Linked DNA regions of Homo sapiens. The protein of the gene in region 3 purifies or fractionates together with the protein of the main gene of each other region. This does not show direct contact. Each region holds a gene or a part of one and is shown on either strand. Other genes may lie near its edges.

Region 1 (8,538 bases), on a different chromosome or scaffold from region 3:
CACAGAAAGACATGGAGGATGCTTAAATGCATTTTGCTAAGCGAAAGAAGCCAGTCTGGAAAGGCTATATACCATATGATTCATACATACTATATGACATTCTGGAAAAGGCAAAACTACAAAGGCAGTAACCAGTGGTTGCCAGGGATAGGTAGGGGGGTTGGGGGGTGGATGGGTAGAGCACAGGAGAGTTTTAGGGCAGTGAAACTATTCTCTATGATACTGTAACACTGGATACTCATCATTATATGTTTGTCCAAAACCATAGAAGGTACAACACCAAGAGGGAATTCTAATGTAAATTATGGACTTTCATTAATAACATTGCATCGATATTGGCTCACCAAGTATAACAAAATTGGCCAGGCCTGGTGGCTCACACCTGTAATCCCAGCACTTTGGGAGGCCAAGGCGGGCTGATCACTTGAGGCCAGGAGTTCAAAAGCAGCCTGGCTAACATGGTAAAACCCTGTCTCTACTATTATAAAAATACAATAATTAGCTGGGCATGGTGGTGCACCTGTAATCCCAGCTACTCGAGAGGCTGAGGCCCAAGAATTGCTTGAACCTGGGAGGCAGAAACTGTAGTGAGCTGAGATTGTGCCACTGCACTCCAGCCTAGGCAACAGAGCAAGACTGTTTCAAAAAGAAAAAAGCTGTAACAAAAATATCCTATCAATGCATGATGTTAAAAATAGGGGAGGCCAGGCCTAGTGGTTCATGCCTGTAATCCCAGCACTTTGGGAGGCCAAGGCAGAGGATCACTTGAGCCCTTGAGTTCAAGGCCAGCTTGGGCAACAAAGTGAGACCCATCTCTACAAAAAAATTTTTAAATTAGCCAGGCGTGGTTGTGCATGCCTGTAGTCCCAGCTACTTGGGAGGCTGAGGCATGAGAATCACTTGAGCCCAGGAGTTCAAAGCTGCAGTAAGCTGTGTTTGTGCCACTGCACTCCAGCCTGGGCAACAAAGTGAGACCCTGTCTCAAAAAAAAAAAAAAAGAAAAAAAAAAAAAGAAAGGAAAAGAATAGAAAGAAAAATAGGAGAAAGCGCGCAGGAAGGGACAGACTGAGAATATGGGAACTCTGCACTCCGTCCTCAATTCTTCTGTAAACCTAAAACTGCTCTAAAAATGTCTACTAATTGAAATAAATAAATGAATCTAGCTCTATAGTTCACATCTTACTCTAAAATACAGTCCAATTGGGTTAAAAATAAATACTTGAAAATCAAATATAAGAAGAAAACATTAAATTATTAGAAAATATTGGTAAATATTGAGTTATACAAACCTGACACTGTCAAAACACCCAACAAGTAACAAACCACGATAATTGTGTAAGGCTTAAGTTTGTGTGTGTGTGTGTGTGTGTCTGTGTGTGCATGCGTGTGTTTATCTGCAGGGTAAAAGCCTAGAAGAATTTACACTGAAATGTTGAAAGTTACTGGGTAAAGGGTTTTGGGTTTCAGAGGTTTTTGACGACTGTAATTATTTTGTTTTCTTAACTGAATGTTCTTTTTTTATATTGTACATGATTACTTCTGAAAAAAAAAAATAAAAGAGTATGTCGTTCCCCCCCTGCAGGGAGGCAGAGTCCAGGTGGCCACCAAGGGGCTGTTGTCACAGTCCAGGGAAAGCCAGAATGGCAGGCACGGGAGCCTTGGGAGGGGCCTCAATCAGGCTTGCCCTTTGGCCCCAGAAAGAGCAGGGGCCTGCAGTGAAGCCCATAGAGCCCCTTGTGGGCCGTATGGGCCGCCTCCAGGCCTCCACCTCCTCCCCCAGTCATGGCCGCTCAGTGTCCTTTCACTTGGTGGTGTGGGGACACTGGGAGGCTTCCTGGGCCTCCCAACCCTCCTACCCAATTCCCAGCCCAGGCTTGGCTCTCCAGGACCCAGCTTCTAGTCCCTGTGAGGCTGGGCCACCCTGCAGGACTGCAGCTCTGGGCCCTCTGTTCTGGTGCTAGGGCCCTGGGGCCCATGAATGCAGTTCTAGCACTCGGGAGGCTGAGGCGGGAGAATCACTTGAACCCGGGAGGCGGAGGTTGCAGTGAGCCGAGATCGTGCCACTGCACTCCAGCCTGGGCGACAGAGCGAGACTCTGTCTCAAACAAACAAACAAACAAACAGCAGCCAACATTCTCCGAGGGTTTCCTAGGGCCAGGCGCGGGGCAGTCTCATGTAATTCTCAAGCAATCTTGGGAGGCAGGCACTACTGTTCATTGCCCCTCCCGATTTTAGAGACAAGAAACTAAGATTCAGAACACAAGAAACTTGCCCAAGGTCAAGGAGAAGTGGAGGCGTGGGGAGGAAACAAAGTCACCTGACACCAGAGCCCATGCCTCCAAACTCCAAGTCTGGGACTCCTGATTAAATTCCGTCTCTGTCTGCACTTTGGGAAGATTCTTTCCTCTCCTAGGCAAGTGCCCGCGGGGCCTGAGCTCTCGATAGCGGGGCCCCAGGAGCCACGTTGTGGGGTCTGCTATCCGGCCTCCCTCTGCACGCGCGACCGTCCACTTGAGCGCAGTGGCTGGAGCTGGGACTCCAGCGCAGCCCCTGAGCGCTCACGTCGACCCCTCCAATCACAAGAGGCCCTCGTGCCAGGCCCCCAGATTTGGCCAATCAGGGAAGACCTTTCCCTGTCACAGAATGGGGTCGAGGGGCCCAGGAAACAGGTAGTCCCCAGTCACAAATCATCGCGTCGCCTTCGCTGGTCCCTTTCTCTTATCGAGCCTCAGTTTTCTCTTCCATAAGCCGGGCCAGCAGTGCCCACCCCACAGGTTGGCGCCAGCTCCGTAAGGGCCCTACCACCGCGGCCGGCCAGATCCTCGGCGGGCCAGTCCTGGCGCTGCGGTCATTTAGCCTGATGACCCCTGGCCAGGTTCAGCCTCAATTGCTCCAAAGAACTCCGGACCCGTACCCCGAGCCCGGCGTCCCAGCGGCGAAGTTGATGGGCCCCGCAGGAGCCCTTGCGGTGAGAACCGAGTCCTGGAGCCCCTGGAGCCCCCGGAGCCCCCGGAGCTGCAGCCGGGGCAGCCTCCTTTCCGCCGGGAGTCCAGCGCTCTCGAGAGCCCAGAAACTCACCGCGCGCAGGAGTTGGTGCGGGCGTCCCGGGCAGGTTAGACTTCTGTGAGCCGCAGCCCCGAAACTGAGGTTGGTGCAGACCCGTCCTGGGAGCCAGGAGGTGGGACCTGTCCCCGCCAGTCCGCGAGCTCTGGTTAAGGCCAGAGCCCGTGAGGGGAGGGGCGCGGGGCGGGCGGAGAGTCAGCCGAGTGGGGGCGGCGCTCACCGGTGGTGGGACTATGGCGGGAGCGCAGCGCACCCTCTCCGGGCGGGTCTATAAATGCCATGTAAAAGCCAACCCCGCAGGGGCCTGCGCTCTTTCCCGCTTAGGTCAAGAAGACTTACTGTGGACCCTTGGAGAATTCCCAGGGCTTTGAAAAGTCCCAAGCACCCAGCAGGGCTGGCAGTTCTGAGCGCTGGCAAGGCTAAGTGGGTCAGAGGAGACCCTCGCCAAGCCGGTGACTCACTCACTCGCTCACCCTCTCTCACTCTTGATGGGCCAAGTACCTGCCATGTGCTACGGACACAGCAGAGCGAAAGGAGACGCTGCCCTCCGGGAATTTGCAGCCGCTTGCAGAGGCGGCCCCTTAGCAGCTGCGCATCCGGGTGGATAGCGGCGCTTCTGCCCGCCCAGTGCCTACCCGCCTCTCCGAGAGAAAAACAGCCCCTGGTTTTCTCTCTGCAATTCCCCTTCTCCACTCTCTCCCTTCTACTCAGTCCTGGTGCCGCAGACCCCTCCTCCTGGTTCCCAGAGATCCTGGCCAGCCCGGTCTCAGGCAAGGCCATGTAGAATGCCGGGAGTGATAATTGCGTATTGTTTCATGACTGCAAGCCTGTGTCCAGGTGGCTCCTTCTCCTGGAACACCCTTCCCACCACACCTGCGGCCGCACTGCTCCGTGCCCTGCTAAGCCTCACTTCTTTTGAGGCGACCCTCTCGCTAAGTCCCGACCACCTGGCCCTCTCTCTGCTCAGTGCCTGAACACATCAGGCTTGCTGCAGCCCCTGCCTTTACCTCTCTACTTGTAGTGTTCTTTCAGAGCCTGCTCCCATATGGTATCACATATCAGATATCTGATGCAGAGCCTTAGAGAGGCTGTTCCAGGTCACACAAACTAAGGAAGTCCCTCAGCCACTCCCTGCCACATCACCCTGTTCTATTTCCTTCACAGCACTTAACTGTATATCTGATATTTCCTTGTTTCTTTGTTTGTTCATTGTCTGTCTCTCCCACTAGACTGTAAGCTCTTTGAGGACAGGAAATTTGTGAGATGTATTCACTGTTGTATCCCCAATACACAGTGATGGCTTGTAGCAGTTGCTAAATAAATGTTTGTTGAATGGCTTAATGCATGTATTTTGCTCACATAAGCCAGTATGGGCACCCAGGATTGAGGTGGCCTGTGCCTGCTGATCCACTTAGCCTACTTTCAGGCACTGTCCCCTTGTTCTTTAGGCTCCAGCCTGCAGGTCTCCCTGCTGTCCCTCATATCTGTGGAACTTCTCGACTCATAAAGTTTCCATGTGCCGTTCATCTTTGTCCAGAGAACCCCCATCATTCTTCAGGAAGTTCCTACTAAAATGCCATGACTTCAGGGAAGCTTTCCCTAGCCTCAGCCTTACTAGGACAGATTCCTCCATTATGTGATCACAGAGAGGCCTGTAATTTTTCTTCATGAACCTCTCTCAACTTTATTTATTTATTTTTTTTTGAGGTAGAGTCTCACTCTGTCACCCAGGCTAGAGTCCAATGGTGCAATCTCAGCTCAATGGACCCTCCACCTCCTAGGTTCAAGCGATTCTCCTGCCTTAGCCTCCTGAGTAGCTGGGATTACAGGCATGCGCCACCACACCCAGCTAATTTTTGTATTTTTAGTAGACGTTTCACCGGGGTTTCACCATGTTGGCCAGGCTGGTCTCAAACTCCTGACGTCAGATGATCCACCTACCTCAGCCTCCCAAAGTGCTGAGATTACAGGCATGAGCCACTGCACCCTGCCTTCAACTGCAATTTTATCACTGCTTCTGGGATTGCTTGATTAACATGTCTCTGGACAATGATGGCGAAGACTAGCTTATTCTCCTGGGAAGTCCCCAGGGCTGAATGCATGCCCTGTGTGTGGAAGGTGTGCCATATAATCTGTAGGAAAACTGGCTGAGTGTTAGGGGCCTGCAATGGGAAAGTGGTGTGTTCTGAACTTGGGAGTTAAAATTGAGAAGGCAGATGGGCGACAGGAACCACTGAACAATGGCTTGGAGGTTAGACACCCCAAAAAGATGTATTAGGAAATCAGAGAGGAATCCATACTCTTAGAGGTATGGAGCAGGAGAGGAGGGAATTTTAAGCAGAAAGTGTTCCGAAATCATGTGGAAAGTAGAAAATGTACCAGATGAACTGGGGGATCTCATTAAGGAGATTGTTGAAGGTGCCTCCTCCTGGCTTCTTCTTGCTGCTTATACTAAAATGTGAGAGAAGGGACATAAGCCAAAGGAAGGATTGTTAAATAAAAAGGAACCATAACTTGGGCTGTGAAAATGTCCAGCTTCTCCAGATGTCATATGATGCTAAAACTAACAAATGGCTTCCAGGCAAAGAGCAAATGCAGGCCAGTGCAAGGAAGATGGCCTAAAGATGAAGCCAAGAGTGTGGTCATGAGATCTTTTGTAAAATCTTCAAAGAGAACAAAGGGACACCTCAGAATATTTTGTTAAATAGTAGGATTTCTAAGAAGCTTACAGTTGTCCTTGACAGCAGTCTCAGCAGAAGCCCAAGAGAGAGAAGGGCTTTTCTCAAAGAGATGTGTGGGTTTGACAGTTGTCTAAAGGCATGAACCTCAGTGAGATCTACAGGAGACATGCAACATTTTTAAAAGAATTATATGAGCAAAACAGTGTAGACTTGGACTGAAAGGGTCAGAGACAATATAAAATGAAAAGAGACCTCTAGACTCCCCCAAATTCTGGGAGGAAGCAAGCTGAGAAACTATACGGATATGAACCTGGGCTGCATTTCATGGAAAAGAAGGGATGACTTGGGGAATAGAACAAAGAACCCAAAGGGTGGAGCCAAGAGCGTGGAGAATCACTCTGGGGCCAGAGTCAGACTGAGTCCTATTCAAGAGACTTTCAGGACCCGCCCAGGAAGATTTTAGAATTGCCGTACACTAGTTACTCCTGCATGCCTCCTGTCCTTGTTCCCTTTGGAGCAGGCACGTCTACAGTGGTTATCCAATGCCTATCCCACCAGTTTATGTCAGGTGGGTGCAGGGGGGAGGCGCAGTTAATTTGTCTCTGGAATTCCTAAGTCTGTAGATTGAGAGCAACTCTACTCAAGGAGCTACACTTGAGGGAATAATACCCCAGGTGCTTCACCCACATCAAAGCCTGATTTAGATGCAGAGATTCTGGATATTGAGCTGATTCTACAGTGGGATGAGGCTTTGAGGGGATGTTTGGAGGGCGAATGTATTTTGCATGTGGAAGGATGTAAGTAGTTTGTGGCCAGTAGGTGGACTGTGGTCATTTTAAAACTCTCTGATGCTCTTCCATTCAAGGAGTGGCACTTAATTCCCCTGCCTTTGAATGTAGGCTGAACGTAGTGACTTCCTTTTAACACATGAAAGATGGTGGAAGTAACTGTGTGATTTCCGAATCCATCCTTTCATAGACCAGAGAGAGAAGCTGAGGCTTGAGGTCAGACAGTGGCAGAAGCCAGCTTGTCCCTGTCCCAGGACTATATGATACTCTCTGAACGAGTCCCACTGAAACCCTCTTTTGCCAGTTCAGTTCACTGTGCCGGGAATGCCCTGCTTCTTGAAGCCACCAGCTGAGCCCTGCCTGTGCCCCAGGGATGGGCTTGTGCATCATCTCCTTTGGGAAGCCTGACCCCAACCTTCTCCTTGGGAATTCCCTCACTCACAGCACAGACCACACTCTAATGCAACTATTTATATGTGTGTCTGTCTCTTTATCAACTGCAACACCTCTGAGGGCAGGGACAGGGCCTGTTTCATCTGTGTATCCCACAGCCCTGCACAGGCCCTGATCCAGGAGAGGCACCTGCAGTGACAGTGGCTGGATAAGCCCTGCAGAGAGAGCCTCTGCCCGGGCTTTCCGCAGGGCCCTGGTGGCTAAGTCCTCCCAGGGAAAGCAGTGTGCACTTACACAGCCCAAGTCTGGGTAGAACAATGGGGGCTACTGCTCCAATCCAGAGGCAGATTAGGAGACAAGCCTGGCTCAGGGCTCTGTGAATGGGGGATGGGATAGACATGGGTTCTCTTTCTGTTGTATAATGATGATTCAGCTTGTTTTTGGGGAATCAGTAACTGGGACTGTGTGTACGCTGCAAAGGAAACATTAACTTGAAGGTCATAGCCTGTGGGAAATCAAAGCGGGGAGGCCAAGTGACCTGGGCTTGTTTTTGTTTTGTTTTGTTTTGTTTTAATTTTGGAGCCAGTGTTTCTCTTTATCTCCTAGGATGCCTCGTTCAGATGCTTCTACCCTGCCTCGTGAGTTACTCATGATGTCACCTGATCCCCACCCCTTAGAACCTCTCCCCAGTGGGAACCAAGAATTCAAAATGGTTTTCTCCATATTTCCCCCTTTAAAGGGCCTGCATGCAATTTTTCATGTAGAGGCGAAGGTAGGGATGAGACTTAACAGAGCTCTGTGCCACACACCAGAGCCCACCTGATGACCTGCAGACATAGATGGAATGCTTCTGGGCCACAGAGCTTACAGCCCTGCTCCTGCCAGGTCCTCTCCAGCCCCATGCCAAATCTAACCTGGGGGTGTTGCGTGTTTGCACCCCCATGCAAACTGGCTGGTGCCAGCACCTGGCTGGCACATGGCCCCCAGAAACTCACTGTAAAGGAATAAATGAGCAAAGAGGAGGCAGGGACGGTGTCTCTACTCCAGGTGCTCGCACCTCTATGGGGGAGATGAATGCACAGGTGGCAGATATGAAAGGTGGGAGGGGATGTGAACCATCACAGAGGTGAGACATGAAGAAAGCGGGTCTGGGTACTTCAGGCTTCACCTGGGAGATAAGGCCCAGTAAGACTGTGATGACTTTAACCAGCAAAAAATAAGAAACGTTCCAGTTGGAGAGAATGTAAGAATGATGCATTGGTGCATGGAGGTGGGGATGTGGGTTGTTTTTGAGGAATCAGGAGAAAGCATTGCAGCTGCAGGAGAGAAGCTGGCAAAGTCAGGGGTCACGAGGCCACAACATGGGGTGCAGACTGTGGGTTTCACTCTGTTGTCCAGTGGTAACAAGATGTTCTGATTTCATAGGCCAGGGCAATTTCAACAGCATTCCAGTAACTGATATTAGATTCTCATTTTCTTATTTTGCAAAGTAAAAACATCTTTAAAAAGTCAATATTCTGGAGTATTATTCAGACTTAAAAAGGAAGAAAATTCTGACACACATTACAACATGGAGGAATCTTGAGTAGTTTATTCTAACTGAGTTAACCCAG
Region 2 (8,247 bases), on a different chromosome or scaffold from region 3:
CTGAAGTTGTTTGGAGATGGCTTAGTGAATACATTTTTGTGCTGCTTTTTGGTCCATGTGACTGTGGTTTTGCAAGAGTTACGCTTGGGCATGTCCCAGACATAAGAACTTTCCTTCTTCCGGCAATTAAATACCCTGTGCCATTGGCAGCACAGCCTGCTGTGTCTCTCTTAGGGACAGTGTCCCCAGGTAGTATCCCCACACATCACCAGCCTCCATCACCACCTGCCTTGCATTGATCACAGAAACAAAGAAGTAATTCCATATCAAGAAAATAATCTTTCTCACATAGATACACATCTCTTTATTCTTCTTTCATCCCTTCTCATCTCCAACATTCCCCAGTTATTTAAGGAAACCTTTCTTCTATCTCAGCCTATTTCAGTCTACTTGTGAGTGCCTTCTGCACCCCCACCTCAAAAAAAGGCCTTTCTAATGTCTGTTATATGTAGAAATATTTCTAGTGACCGATCTAAAATAAGAAATAGGAAGGCCAAAAGTTTTGATGCAATAGGAGAGAAAATGAAGAACTAGGGGCACCCATCGTTCAAACCACCAAATATATTAATATATATTTTAGAAAAAATATTTTCTACTATTTTTGTTGCACATATATAATGTTAAGTGATTGGGGTTAAACAGGCTTTTTTTTTTTTTTTTTTTTAGACGGAGTTTCACTCTTGTCGCCTAGGCTGGAGTGCCGTGGTGCAATCTCTGCTCACTGCAACCTCCACCTCCCAGTTTCAAGCGATTTTCTCTCCTCAGCCTCCTGAGTAGCTGGGATTATAGGCATAGGCATGTGCCACCACGCCTGGCTAATTTTGTGTTTTTAGTAGAGATGGGGTTTCACTACATTGGCCAAGCTGGTCTTGAACTCCTGACCTCAGGTAATCCGCCTGCCTTGGCCTCCCAAAGTGCTGGGATTACAGGTGTGAGCCACTGCGCCCGGCCTAAACAGGCTTTTAGCAGGTTTGTCTTAGAATTGAGTATAGTTTGTAATTTTTTGTTTAGAGAAATATTTTCTAAGTTTTTATTTTGTTTTGTTTTGTTTTTTGAGACAGAGTCTTGCTCTTGTCGCCCAGACTAGGGTGCAATGGCATGATCTTGGCTCACTGCAACCTCCGCCTCCTGGGTTCAAGTGATTCTTCTGCCTCAGCCTCCCAAGTAGCTGGGATTACAGGTGTGTGCCACCACACCCGGCTAATTTTTGTATTTTTAATAAAGACGGGGTTTCACCGTGTTGGCCAGGCTTGAACTCCTGACCTCAGGTGATCCATCTGCCTCGGCCTCCCAAAGTGCTGAGATGACAGGCGTGAGCCACCACACCTGGCCTATTTTCTAAGTTTTTTAACAAATTAATTTTGAGACTGCTTCCTCTGTTTCAACAAAAATGCATTAAAAACCTACTGTGTGACAGGCTGTGGCTAGATCAAGATGAATAATACCAAAAAGTAACTCATTGGTTAGAGGGGAGAAGAAACGTGCACCAAGAGTTCCAGTACCAGAGCTTGCTGCTCAGTGAAGCTGCAGGATGCCTGTGTGGCCCCAGGAGGGAGGGACGTGCTGCTGTGGCTGGGAAGGGAAGGGGGGCAAATCTGCCGGCATAGTCCCTACCCAGAGCAACTAGGTGATGGGGTTTTGTCAGATCTCTTCTGTTAGTCACCTGTGACCCCGCAAGCCTTTCCAAGTGGTAGGTCACCAGATTCTGCTGCATGCACTGGGTTTCTACTCAACTGGATTTAGAGTTCAAACATCTTTGGCATAAAAAAGAAATACATAAAGACAACCCTTAAGGGTTCACAATAAAAACTGATTTACTCCCTCCTATCTATAGATTACAAATTGAACACCCTGTAACCATGGCTAAAATTGCCATGATTACTCGGCACACAGTTAAGGCTGGGCGCAGTGGCTCGTGACTGTAATCCCAGTGCTTTGTGGGGCTGAGGCAGAAGGATTATTTGAAGCCAGGAGTTCAAAACAAGCCTGGGAAATATAGTGAGATCCTGTCTCTACAAAAAAATAAAAATAAAAAATTAGCTGGGCATGGTGACACTCACCTGTGGTCCCAGCTATTCGGGAGGCTGAGGCAGGAGGATCATTTGAGCCTGAGAGATCAAGCTTGCAGTGAGCCATGTTCACGACACTGCACTCGAGCCTGAGTGACAGAGTGAGACCCTGTCTCAAAAAAGACCCCCCCCCACACACAATTAAACATAATATTGAATATGACAACTAGCTAGAATATTTCGTGGAATTAAAAAGAAATGCTAACTGGCCGGGCATGGTTGCTCATGCTTATAATCCCAGCACTTTGGGAGGTCAGGAGTTTGAGACCAGCCTGGCCAACATGGCAAAACCCCATGTCTACTAAAAATACAGAAATTAGCCTGGAGTGGTAGTGCATGCCTGTAGTCCCAGCCACTTGGGAGCCTGAGGCAGGAGAGTCACTTGAATCCAGGAGGCAGAGGTTGCAGTGAGCCAAGATCACACATACTGCACTCCAGCCTGGGAGACCAAAAAAAAAAAAAAAAGAAGAAAAGAAATACTAACCTTGGCAAGGTCTAGAACTGTTGTATTAATTTTGAAACATGGGAGTAAATATAGACACACTGATGGTGGCTTTGACTTTCTGCTCCCCCAGGCTCCTCAGTGGTTGGAAAGTGATTCTTGTCAGAAATGTGAGCAGCCATTTTTCTGGAACATAAAGCAGATGTGGGACACCAAGACGCTGGGGCTAAGACAAGTGAGTAGCCACTGTCGAGTCATCTCTGGCTTGATTGTGTATTTCACTATTTGCATACTTAATCTGGGGTTTTTTTGAAACACACTTTGTTTTTGCAAATGCTATTAATTCCTACATTTTCTATGTCTTTATCATTGTGTGACTAACAATGAGGAAGACCTTTCCCAGGGCCAGTGAGACTGTTACCTCACTTTTCCATTGCTTGTCCTGTATTGGAAAGGCAGGGGTGCGTAGAAAATCCTGAGAGCCTATTTTTAAACAGATAAAAGATCTTTCAGTTTAAGACTATTACTTATTAAAGTCAGTGTTTTATGCTAGCCAAGAACAAAATTAGAATAAAGTCATACAGTTATATACCTTATGCTGTCACAAACAGATAAAAAGTAATAATTTAGTCCTCACTTGAATGCCTGACCCTATGAGTTTTAGATTATTTTAAATTGTTCCCTTATAAGCATACCTGGAATATTTTTATTAAGCATGTTTTGAGTACTGTTTTTTAAATTTTTTAATTAAAGAAATATGTTCCAAATAGCCTGTAGATTTTAAAGGTGCTGTTAAAGGATTCTTGTAATACTAAAGTTCTACAAAAAAAAAAAAAAGCAGGTAAGTAAAAAAGAATGCTGATTTTATTCCTTTTATTATTGGTTGCATCTCTATGAGCGATTAGCCTAAAGTTTGTATGTGTTAATAAACTTTTTTGGCCCTGCATGGTGGCTCAGGCCTGTAATCCCTGCACTTTGGGAGGCCGAGGCAGGTGGATCACCCGAGGTCAGGAGTTTGAGACCAGCCTGGCTAACATGGCGAAACCCTGTCTCTCCTAAAAATACAAAAATTAGCTGGGTGTGGTGGCGGACGCCTGTAATCCCAGCTACTCGGGAGGCTGAGGCAGGAGAATCACTTGAACCCAGGAAGCGGAGGTTGCGGTGAGCCAAGATCACGCCACTGCACTCCAGCCTAAGTGACAGAGCGAGACTCCATCTCAAAAAATAAATTAATTAATAAATAAAATCTAAAAAATTTTACTCAGAGATACTCCACAGTAAGGTCTCATATGAGACTGGCAGGCAAGAAGGGAATTATTAGTGCTCAGACCATTATAAAGCTCTGAAATAGCACCTGAGTTCTGTCTGTCATTAGCCAAGTTCTCACAATGCATGGCTGATGGTAATTAGTGCAGTATAATTAATAGGTGAAGTATTCCCTACTTCTAAAGGAAACACAGAGAAATGGATTTTACTTCCATTTATTAACAGTTAACAGAAGAGAGAAGAGGTGCTGGTCACTAAACTTTTGGCGGTAAAAGAATATGTCAAAATCAGTAATAATAATTGGACTATTTTGTAATGTTCTTGAGGCTTATTTCCAGAATCACAGTTTGAGAGATTTTAGAAAATAGCAAAATACATGATTATGGGCATTAGTTTCTTAATGAGAGCATAGTGCATTTAAAACTTATTTTAGACCGGGTATGATGGCTTATGCCTGTAATCCCAGCATTTTGGGAGGCCAATGTGGAAGGGTGGCTTAAGCCCAGGAGTTTGAAACCAGCCTGAGCAACATGATGAGACCCCGTCTCTATAAAAATAAATAAATAAAACTTATTTTAAAACCCTTTAGGCTGGGCATGGTGGCTCACACCTGTAATCCTAGCACTTTGGGAGGCCGAGGCAGGAGGATCACTTGAGCCTAGGTGTTCAAGACCAGCCTGGACAACATAGCAAGACCCTGTCTCTGCAAAAAAATCAAAAAATTAGCCAGACATGGTGGCAGACACGTGTAGTGCCAGCTACTTGGAAGGCTGAGGTGGGAGGATCGCTTGAGTCTGGGAGGTCAAGGCCGCAGTGAGCTGTATGCCATTGCACCTTTGCATTCCAGTCTAGGTGACAGAATGAGACCCTGTCTCTGAAAAAAAAAATAATAATAATGCCTTTTTTATGATGGAGGAATAAATTTTTCTTTCCCTAAATCTACAGTGATTAGGCTCCTAAATGAACTAAATTTGTTGTTAATAATATTGTTTGTTAACATGTAGACAGATAATATGAATGAATGAAAAGCAACATTTGACCAGTACAGCAAAGTTTTTTGGAAATCCTTGACTAGTGTCAGAATTGTCTATCTTGTGAGTGTTAATTGATACATTGAATTGGGGTGATTGCAATTCAAGGCATATCCTCCCCGCTCCTGTTGCCCTACTTTAGAGGGAAACCATGTGCTTTAAAGCAAAAGCTAGGCCAGGCGCAGTGGCTCACGCCTGTAATCCCAGCACTTTGGGAGGCTGAGGCAGGTGGATCATGAGGTCAGGAGTTCGAGACCAGCCTGACCAAGATGGTGAAATCCCATCTCTACTAAAAATACAAAAATTAGTCAGGCGTGGTGACAGGCACCTGTAATCCCAGCTACTTGGGAGGCTGAGGCAGGAGAATTGGTAGAACCCGGGCGCCAGAGGTTGCAGTGAGCCGAGATCACGCCACTGCACTCCAGCCTGGGTGACAGAGTGAGACTCTGTCTCAAAACAAAACAAAAAGCGAAAGCTAACACCCTGTTTTCCTCCTCCCGGTCACCTGTGAAGCATCACTGCAGGAAATGCGGGCAGGCTGTCTGCGGGAAGTGCAGCAGCAAGCGCTCAAGTTACCCAGTCATGGGCTTCGAGTTCCAAGTCCGGGTTTGTGATTCTTGTTACGACTCCATCAAAGATGAAGAGTGAGTGTTTGCATATTTTTGTCTCATTGCCTCTTATTACATCTGTCTAATGGTTCTCTGAAATGTGAAGAGCTTCAGAAGTGATAGGATATGTTTAGCCATGTGTTTGTTTCTCCTGAATTTCCTAAGCCATTTTATTTGTTGTTTGTTTTTTGAGACAGAGTCTTGCTCTGTCACCCATGCTGGAGTGCAGTGGCGTGATCTCGGCCCACTGCAACCTCTGCCTCCCGGGTTCAAGCGATTCTCCTGCCTCAGCCACCCGAGTAGCTGGGATTACAGGCGCCCCCCACCACCTGGCTAATTTTTGTAGTTTTAGTAGAGATGGAGTTTCACCATGTTGGCCAGGCTGGTCTCGAACTCCTGACCTCAAGTGATCTACCCACCTTGGCCTCTCAAAGTGCCAGGATTACAGGCGCGAGCCACCGTGCCTGGCCCCTAAGCCATTTTTGAAGAGAGGACCTGCCCTAGCTTTATGACTTAAGACCATGACTATGCATCTTAAGTTGCCCCTCTGACTGGGCAGCTTTCTCCTGAACACAGTGAGGAATGCTAAGTTACATGGTCCAGTAACTGAGTGGATACCCTGAGCCTCTGCATCCCACTGGCTGCTATGCAGGGATAAGTCCATGCACCTGTGGATGGCAGTGGTTGAGCTGGTTCTCTATAAAAGTATCCAGTGCCCAGACCTTTGTTCACACATGCATGTAAATTTACTGGGAAAACTCTAGAGACCAATGTTCTTTCTTCCACAGAAATCTGGCCTAGCAGTCTATTCTTAAATTGCTCTTTGTGTGTAAGACACATCTGTTTGATACCCCACTCTGCCCTGACTTTTAGGCAAATCCGTTAGGACAGAACCACTATTTTCTTTCCTTCCCTTTGAATCATCTTTTAAAGCAGCAGAGGCAAATGTTGGCAGAGGTCCACATTGGAAAGCTAGTGCATCACGACTGGTGTTGGTAAATGAACTAGTGATGGGATTGGGGCAGCTGGGCTTTGAAGCGGGTGCTGTAAGAGGCACTGCTCCTGTGCATGGCAGAGGTTTCAGGGAAAACGGCAGCTCTCTGATGTTTTGCCCATGCTGTATGATTTTATTCAATGCAGTTCTTCTTTTATATTGAAGATTCTTGTTTTTATATCTAGGAATGTATCAGCCTTTCCAGTAAAAAAAAAAAATCAGTTATTTTGGGAATTTTATAAAACAATCTTGTGATTTAACATGCTTTCTGTCATCATTAAATTATAAGGTTAGTTTTCAAAACCATAGCCACAATTTTAGGAGCAAATTTTAACACTATTATCATAAGCATTTACTTTTTTTTTTTTTTTTTTTTTGAGACTGAGTCTTGGTTGATCACCTGGGCTGGAGTGCAGTGGTACAATCTCGGCTCACTGCAGCCCCCACCTCCCAGGTTCAAGCGATTCTCCTGCCTCAGCCTCCCGAGTAGCTGGGATTACAGGCGTGTGCCACCACACAGAGCTAATTTTTATATTTTTAGTAGAGACGGGGTTTCACCATGTTGACCAGGCTGGTCTTGAACCCCTGACCTCAAGTGATCCACCCGTCTCGGCCTCCCAAAGTGCTGGGGGTACAGACATGAGCCACTGCACCTGGCCATATTTGCTTATTTTATGTTGCTAAAAAAGCTTACCCCACTAGCTCTAGGTACAGTCAAGTAAATTTTCAGTGATCTCTTTTCTCTTGTTAGTCGGACTTCTCTAGCGACCTTTCATGAAGGAAAACATAACATTTCCCACATGTCCATGGACATTGCCAGGGGACTGATGGTGACCTGTGGGACCGACCGCATTGTAAAGGTAAGCTGGCTAATTGTCTGTCAGCATCTCAGTTGAGATTGCCTATTACCATGCTGTGAATGTGCAGGAGACAGTCACTCTTTCTGACTGGCAAGCTTTATAAGCAAATGATTGCCAGTTTAAAACCTTGAGTAACAAATTGCTTGCCTCTGAGTTTCCATGCATTCATTGGTGGTCAGTCCCAGTGGCACCTCCCTCTGCAGTGTCTGTCTGGCAGAGTGAGTCTGGCACCCTGTATATCCCTATGGGTGGAGTTGACCTCTGGGTTCTCCCTTGCTGGCCTGGGTCCTCACCCCTGACCCATCTCAAGACATTCCTACGCTTGCCAATGTTCCTTTTCATCCTGGGCAGAATGCGTCCTCAGTATAAGGAATAACCACACATTTTAACAATTAAATCCCTGGGTCACTAACACATAAATTGAAATGAAGTGTTTTATACTTAGTACCACTCTTTTTTTTTTTTGAGATGGGTCTTGCTCTGTTGTCCAGGCTGGAGTGCAGTGGCACAGTCACTACTCACTGCGGCCTTCACCTTCCAGGCTCAAGCAATCTTCCCACCTCAGCCTTCCAAAGTAGCTAGAACTACAAGTGCCTGCCACCAGGCTTGGCTAATTTTGGGGGGATTTTTCATAGAGATTGGGTCCTACTATGTTGCCCAGGCTGGTCTCAAACTCCTCGGCTCAAGCGATCCTCCCATCTCAGGCTCCCAAAGTACTGGGATTATAGGCATGATCCACCATGCATGGCCTAAGTACCACTCTTCAGTGGTGAAACTGAGATATTCTATATTCCTGATGGGCTTTTCTAAAAAAAAAATTGAATTTATACTAAAACATTATTATGATTTAATTTTTATGTGTAAAGACACTACCTATATGCTTTATTCACATTTTAGTGAACTACATTGTTTTATCTTTCTGAAAATCTTTTTGTTTGAGACAAGGTCTCGCTCTGTCACCCAGACTGTAGTGTAGT
Region 3 (5,750 bases):
AAAGCTGTCACCGTACAGGAAATCTTTGTCCTTCACATCTGTCTCTGGTTGCACGTGTAACAGCTTCCCCCACCTAGTGGCAAGGAAAGTGGTGGATTCCAACTGTGGAGGAAGGGTCGCCGGCATGCAGAGGGAGGGGTGCAGGGGGAGGGGTGCAGAGGGAGGGGCACAGAGGGAGGGGTGGAGGGGCGCAGAGGGAGGGGCGCAGAGGGAGGGGTGGAGGGGCGCAGAGGGAGGGGCACAGAGGGAGCGGTGCAGAGGGAGGGGTGCAGAGGGAGGGGCGCAGAGGGGGGGTGGAGGGGCGCAGGGGGGTGGAGGGGCGCAGGGGGGTGGAGGGGCGCAGGGGTAGGGGTGCAGAGGGAGGGGCACAGGGAGGGGCGCAGAGGGAGGGGTGGAGGGGCGCAGAGGGAGGGGTGCAGGGGCACAGAGGAAGGGGAGCAGAGGGAGGGGTGCATAAGGAGGGGCGCAGGGAGCCCCAAGTCCCCAGGGGCCCACCCGATGCTAACAATGTGCAGTGAGGAAAGCCAGAACGCACTTCGGTTCCATTCCATTTTATTACAGTCCTGTCCTTGAGTTCCAGAATGAATGGCTATTTAATACACAACCCCAAACACTCCTAAAATGGATCTTGTTAACATTCAAAAGTCTCCCATTTCTTTCTCAGTATATTAAATCAAAAGGAAAAAAAAATCTTAAAAAAAAAAAATCAATAGGTTTAGTTCACCCCAGGAAAAGCACCTTTACAACAGGAAACTAAATTGTCAGGAATCTGACCAAAGACACAAAGCAGCAGATAAGATTCCCGACAGAAGAGAGTGACTCCCACTGGAACATAAATAGATCCCCCCAAAGTATACATATTTCACATGAGTGTGTACATATACATGTCATATATTAAAAAAAATTGGTTTCTATACCCAAAAAGTTATTCAGAAATAAATCAACACCCCGAGACCGGGGATGTCGGGTGCCGCAGCCAGGTTACACATCGAGCTTGCACCTCGCTCTGTGCGGATGACCCCTCGGTGCACTGTGCACACTGGCCTGGAGGGGGCTGGATGGGGGCCTCTTTCCTGCCCCCCAATCCCCAGGCCTGGCAGATCCAGTGTTTGCAGAAAAGTGAGCCAGGGAAATCTAGGAAGGCAGGTGCCTGTGTGGTCCCCAAACCCCCTGGTGCAGAGCTCAGGAGCCAGCTGGAGGCTGGGGGCAAATGGCCAAGGCCACCGCCAGCTGCCCTGCAGGCTGCCCTGGGTCCTGGGGTAAAGGGAAGTGCTTGGGACCCCAGGAATGGAACAGCAGCACTCTCACTTTTTAACAGCAGGCCTGACTCTGGGGTCTGCCAGGCCCTGGAGACCTTTGTAGTATCGCCAGTCTGGGCTTCTCCTGGGATCCAGTGGCCTTGGGAGAGGGAGTGGGCTTTCTGACCCGCCAGGCCTGAGCCTCGTAAGCCTGTTGTGTGAGTGTGTGTGTGCTTAACGGAGCTCAACACATTGCAAATGAGTGTTCTACTGGGACATACTGGAGTAGTGTCTGCTTTGGGGGAAGTCAGTTTGTCATTGCATCCTAATTGGTCCCCATGCTGACGTGGATTATTTGTTCCAAAGATATCAGCTGCTGGAAGCGGCAGACACAGAAAACACGTTACACACCTGGAAGCGTAATCCTCTTGGGGCTTGGCACAGTGTTTCCATTCACAGAACAAACAGCAGAAATGCGTGGGAACCCCTTTCCTCATTCCAAACCCTCTCCTGGCACCGCAGGCAAGCAAGAGAAAAGGCCGTGAGAGTCGGAAGGCGCGTCAGTAGTTTTCAGGTTTGCGAGCTCAACCACGAGACAGTCACACACAGCCGTACTCATACCACACGGTCTGCGGATCCCCGCCGGGCTCCGGGGAGGCCGGACTGCTCTTTGAGACGCTCCCTCGACTGCAGTCCTCCAGGGCCCGGCCGAGGTGGGGAGCCAAATCGGGAGACCGACCTGGGCTCTTGGCCGGAAGCCCCTCACTGCAGCCCTGCCCCGGGACCCCGTCTCCCTCTGAGAGGCTGAGCCCTGCCCGGACAGGGGTGATGGTGGCCACCTCCCCTGAGCGTGGGGGCGCCTTGGGCTTGGTCCTGGCAGCCGGGGCTGCAGCAGGTGAGAAGTGCAGGAGCTGGGAGTTGCTGCCACTGCCAGCAGCAGCAGCACCAGCACCTGCAGTGGCAATGGCGGGGGCTGTGGCAGACTGATGCAGGGGGGCCAGCCTCTCCTCCTTTGGGGGAGCCAGGGAGAAGCGCCTCGTGTCCAGCGGCCGGCTGCGGGGACCTGGGCCCTGACAGGAGCTGCCAGCCTTTCCCACAAGTGGGGTCCGCTCCCGGGCCAGGCTATGGGAGCTGGGGGGTGCGGGGCTTTGCAGGGTGTGGCTGCCTGTCTCTCTGCCCCCTAAGGCCTCAGGAGCCCCCAGCTTCTGAGGGGACTCCTGTTTGCAGGCCTCTGGCCCGCTGGCCCGGAGAAGGTCAGCTGAGGCCAGGCTGAAGGCCCGGCTCAAGGAGGCACTGCGGCTGGCAGGTGCATGGGAAGCTGGGGGCACCGGAGCCTGCCGGGGTCTGCCCAGAGACAGGCTCTGGGGAGGCTGGGCCTGTCTCGGGGCCACGCTGGGTGGGGCCTCGGCCTCAGTCAGTCTGAAGTTTGGCTTTACGTACTGCCCGGGCTTCAGCGGCCTCCCCTCCGAGGTGGGGGCGGCCATTTTGACGGTGGGGGCCACAAAGTTGGTGGGCATCTTGGCCCCTTCTTTCTTGGCAGGTGGTCCTGGTTGGCCTCCGATGGCTGGGGGATCGCTGGCCTTTCGGAAGTAGTCACTCAGCAGGTCATCCCGGCAACTGGGAGTGTCCTACGGAGAAGAGAGTGAAGGTTGGAGGTGGGCATGAGGGTTGGGTGGGTCCTTGGAGCCGCCTCCTGCGCGGGACGCCCCCGAGCAGCCCACGTGGCTGGGACCGCAGTTCCTGCCTGCCTTCTCCGAGGCACATGTGCCGCCTCCACCACACACACCAGCCCTGGGCAGGATGGTGAGGGTGGCTAAGGCAGCATGGGACCACCAGGAAAGAACCCCAGATTCCCCCCAGGCAACCCCCTAACTTTACAGATAAGGAAACAGACCCAGAGAGGGAAATGACTTCCTACAAAGTGAGTAAGTTTCCCAGAAACCTCGACTATAGCCGACTGCTTCGGTCTGTCTGGTTTCCACCAAGCACAGCAGGAACTAGAATGCTGGCGGATATGAGCAGGGCCTTCCTTCCCCGGTCACCCCGGGACATCATAAGGACTTCACCTTGCGCCACCGAGAGCAAGAGGAACAAGAGCAGCTCTTGAAACGCCGGAACCTTCACTGCCACTCAGACCTCTCTCTGGGCCCGAGAAAGAGAAGAGAGAGGCAGAATGGGGATGGGAGGGGGTGGGGGACAGAGAGGTACAAATGGGGTCCGCGAGGGTCCAGAAGGGGGAATGGTGGGGCTGCACAGGGAAATGAAGACACCAGGAAGGCCCAGCCGCCACACTGTCCCTGCTAAGCTGCCGCCCGGGCTGTGCTTCCCCTGCCCAGGGAGCAGGTGTCATTTGCCACCACCTTGGGAATAGGCAGAGCCACAGAGGCAAGGGTCTATGGCCCCACTCAGGAACTGCAGCCTTCTGCAAGCCTAGCTTCTCCTGAGGCTGACATGGATGAAGAGGAAGAGAAGTGAGTTCATGGGGGATGAGAGGCCGGCAGGTGTCAGCCTGAAGGCGGGTTGGTAGCTCAGGAGCCATCTGCACCTGCCAGCAACTCCTGTCCCACACAAACATCTGGACATGGTGCCACTGGACAGAGATACATCTGCTGTTTTATGCTAGTTTGACGCTACACATCTTGGGTGGGCGTCCAGTAAGACCCGTGATATCACAGGTACCTTTCATCACCTGTGGGGCCATGTGCTGTTCTGGGAACCACATGTATAATTGCAAAGAAACTCATTTAATTCTCAAAATGACCTCGCAAGGTTGTTGAAAGGCTGTATCAAGGTAAAGAAACAGGTCACGGAGGTTTGGCAGGCCATGCGTCCAGAGAGGCAGACCCAGATGAAAGCCTATGGCTGCCTGACTCCAGAGCTGCTTTCCACTCCACCAGGCTCCTCCCTGCACACCTCAGAGCCTTTGATACCCACCCTTCCTGGCCACGCAGGGAGCCCCATCTTGTGACATGCCCTCCCTGCATCATCGACGCCCAGAGAGTGGGGGCGCGGTGGGCATACGGTTGTCATTTCCCTGGGATGGGAAGCCCCTGTGTACATTAGGGGCCTTGTGTGTCAGGGGTACCAGGAGGGAAGTCAGGTGTGTCAGGGGTAGGGGGTTAAATATACCAGGCAGACAGAGGGGGCTGGCTCGCTGCATGCCAGACATCAGCTTTCAACAGAAGCTGCTACAGCCAGACTGTTTTGGTCTCATTTAAGCTAAAAATGGAAAGGTAACAGTACAGGGCACAGGGAATGGGGACTGTGAAGACCAGTCTGAGCTGAGCAGGGAGGGGCCCCACTCCTTGCTCAGGACCTGCCTGCCAGATCTCCAAAGGGAAAGGAAAGCATCATAAGGGGCATATAACAAAAAAAGACTGAGAAGGAAAGCCTTCCAGCTGTGGGCCCCCCCAATTTCTGGAGTGTTCTTGTTCAGTCCATTAGACCAGCAGTTCTTTTTTTTTTTTTTGGAGACAGAGTCTCACTGTGTTGCCCAGGCTGGAGTGCAGTGGCACAATCTCGGTTCACTGCAACCTGAGCCTCTCGGGTTCAAGAGATTCTCCTGCCTCAACCTCCCGAGTAGCTGGGATCACAGGCACCCACCACCATGACCCGGTTCATTTTTGTATCTTTAGTAGAGATGGGGTTTCATTGTATCTTTAGTAGAGATGGGGTTTCACTATGTTGGCCAGGCTGGTCTCGAACGCCTGACCTCAAGTGATCCACCCAACTCAGCCTCCCAAAGTGCTGGAATGACAGGCATGAGCCACCGCTTGGCCTAGACCAGTGGTTCTTTTTTTTTTTTTTTTTTTTTGAGACGGAGTTTCGCTCTGTCGCCCAGGCTGGAGTGCAGTGGCGCGATCTCGACTCACTGCAAGCTCCGCCTCCCGGGTTCACGCCATTCTCCTGCCTCAGCCTCCCGTGTAGCTGGGACTACAGGCGCGCGCCACCACGCCCGGCTAATTTTTGTATTTTTAGTAGAGACGGGGTTTCACCGTGTTAGCCAGGATGGTCTCGATCTCCTGACCTCGTGATCCGCCCGTCTCGGCCTCCCGAAGTGCTGGGATTACAGGCGTGAGCCACCGCGCCCGGCCAGACCAGTGGTTCTTAAACCATGGTGCCTACCCAGCCGCAAGACCATTATCTGGAATTTATAAAGATGCAAATTCTCAGCGAGCCCAACCTCAGACCCATTGATTCAGAAACTCAGGGGATGGGTTCTGTGGTCTGGCAAGGCCCCCAGACGATTCAAACGCACGCCTGAGTTTGAGAACCACAACATTAGACCGCTAACTTCTCGAGGGCAGGCCCTCCTTTGTTTTTCTCCAGCTTTGGCTTCTCCAGCTCCTTGCACAGAGTAAGTGCTTGGGAAAGAGAAATGTTTAAATGAAGGAAGGCCAGGGCCATGTTTTATATTTCTCTCGTGTCAACTGCAAGGCTGGGCACAGCACATGCAGGCAAAGAAAACCTGCTGATGAACTGGTTTGCTTTGCTTTCCAAGAGCAGGCACCA

What was found. The genes of interacting proteins can lie anywhere in the genome.
Region 1: the proteins of CCDC88C (region 3) and ALDH1L1 purify together in Homo sapiens (affinity purification with mass spectrometry; 2 studies listed by BioGRID and IntAct, with this or other methods). This does not show direct contact.
Region 2: the proteins of CCDC88C (region 3) and WDFY1 purify together in Homo sapiens (affinity purification with mass spectrometry; 2 studies listed by BioGRID and IntAct, with this or other methods). This does not show direct contact.

The regions. Positions count from the first base shown.
Region 1 is NC_000003.12:126,177,398-126,185,935, forward strand, and holds the start of ALDH1L1 (cytosolic 10-formyltetrahydrofolate dehydrogenase), read right to left. Parts: upstream 3,190-8,538; 5' UTR 3,079-3,189; exon of another isoform or gene 2,668-3,078; intron 1-2,667. UniProt on the Homo sapiens protein: Cytosolic 10-formyltetrahydrofolate dehydrogenase that catalyzes the NADP(+)-dependent conversion of 10-formyltetrahydrofolate to tetrahydrofolate and carbon dioxide.
Region 2 is NC_000002.12:223,879,147-223,887,393, reverse strand, and holds part of WDFY1 (WD repeat and FYVE domain-containing protein 1), read left to right. Parts: intron 1-2,644; coding exon 2,645-2,746; intron 2,747-5,321; coding exon 5,322-5,452; intron 5,453-7,161; coding exon 7,162-7,270; intron 7,271-8,247. UniProt on the Homo sapiens protein: Positively regulates TLR3- and TLR4-mediated signaling pathways by bridging the interaction between TLR3 or TLR4 and TICAM1.
Region 3 is NC_000014.9:91,270,788-91,276,537, forward strand, and holds the end of CCDC88C (protein Daple), read right to left. Parts: intron 2,867-5,750; coding exon 1,838-2,866; 3' UTR 536-1,837; downstream 1-535. UniProt on the Homo sapiens protein: Required for activation of guanine nucleotide-binding proteins (G-proteins) during non-canonical Wnt signaling. Binds to ligand-activated Wnt receptor FZD7, displacing DVL1 from the FZD7 receptor and leading to inhibition of canonical Wnt signaling.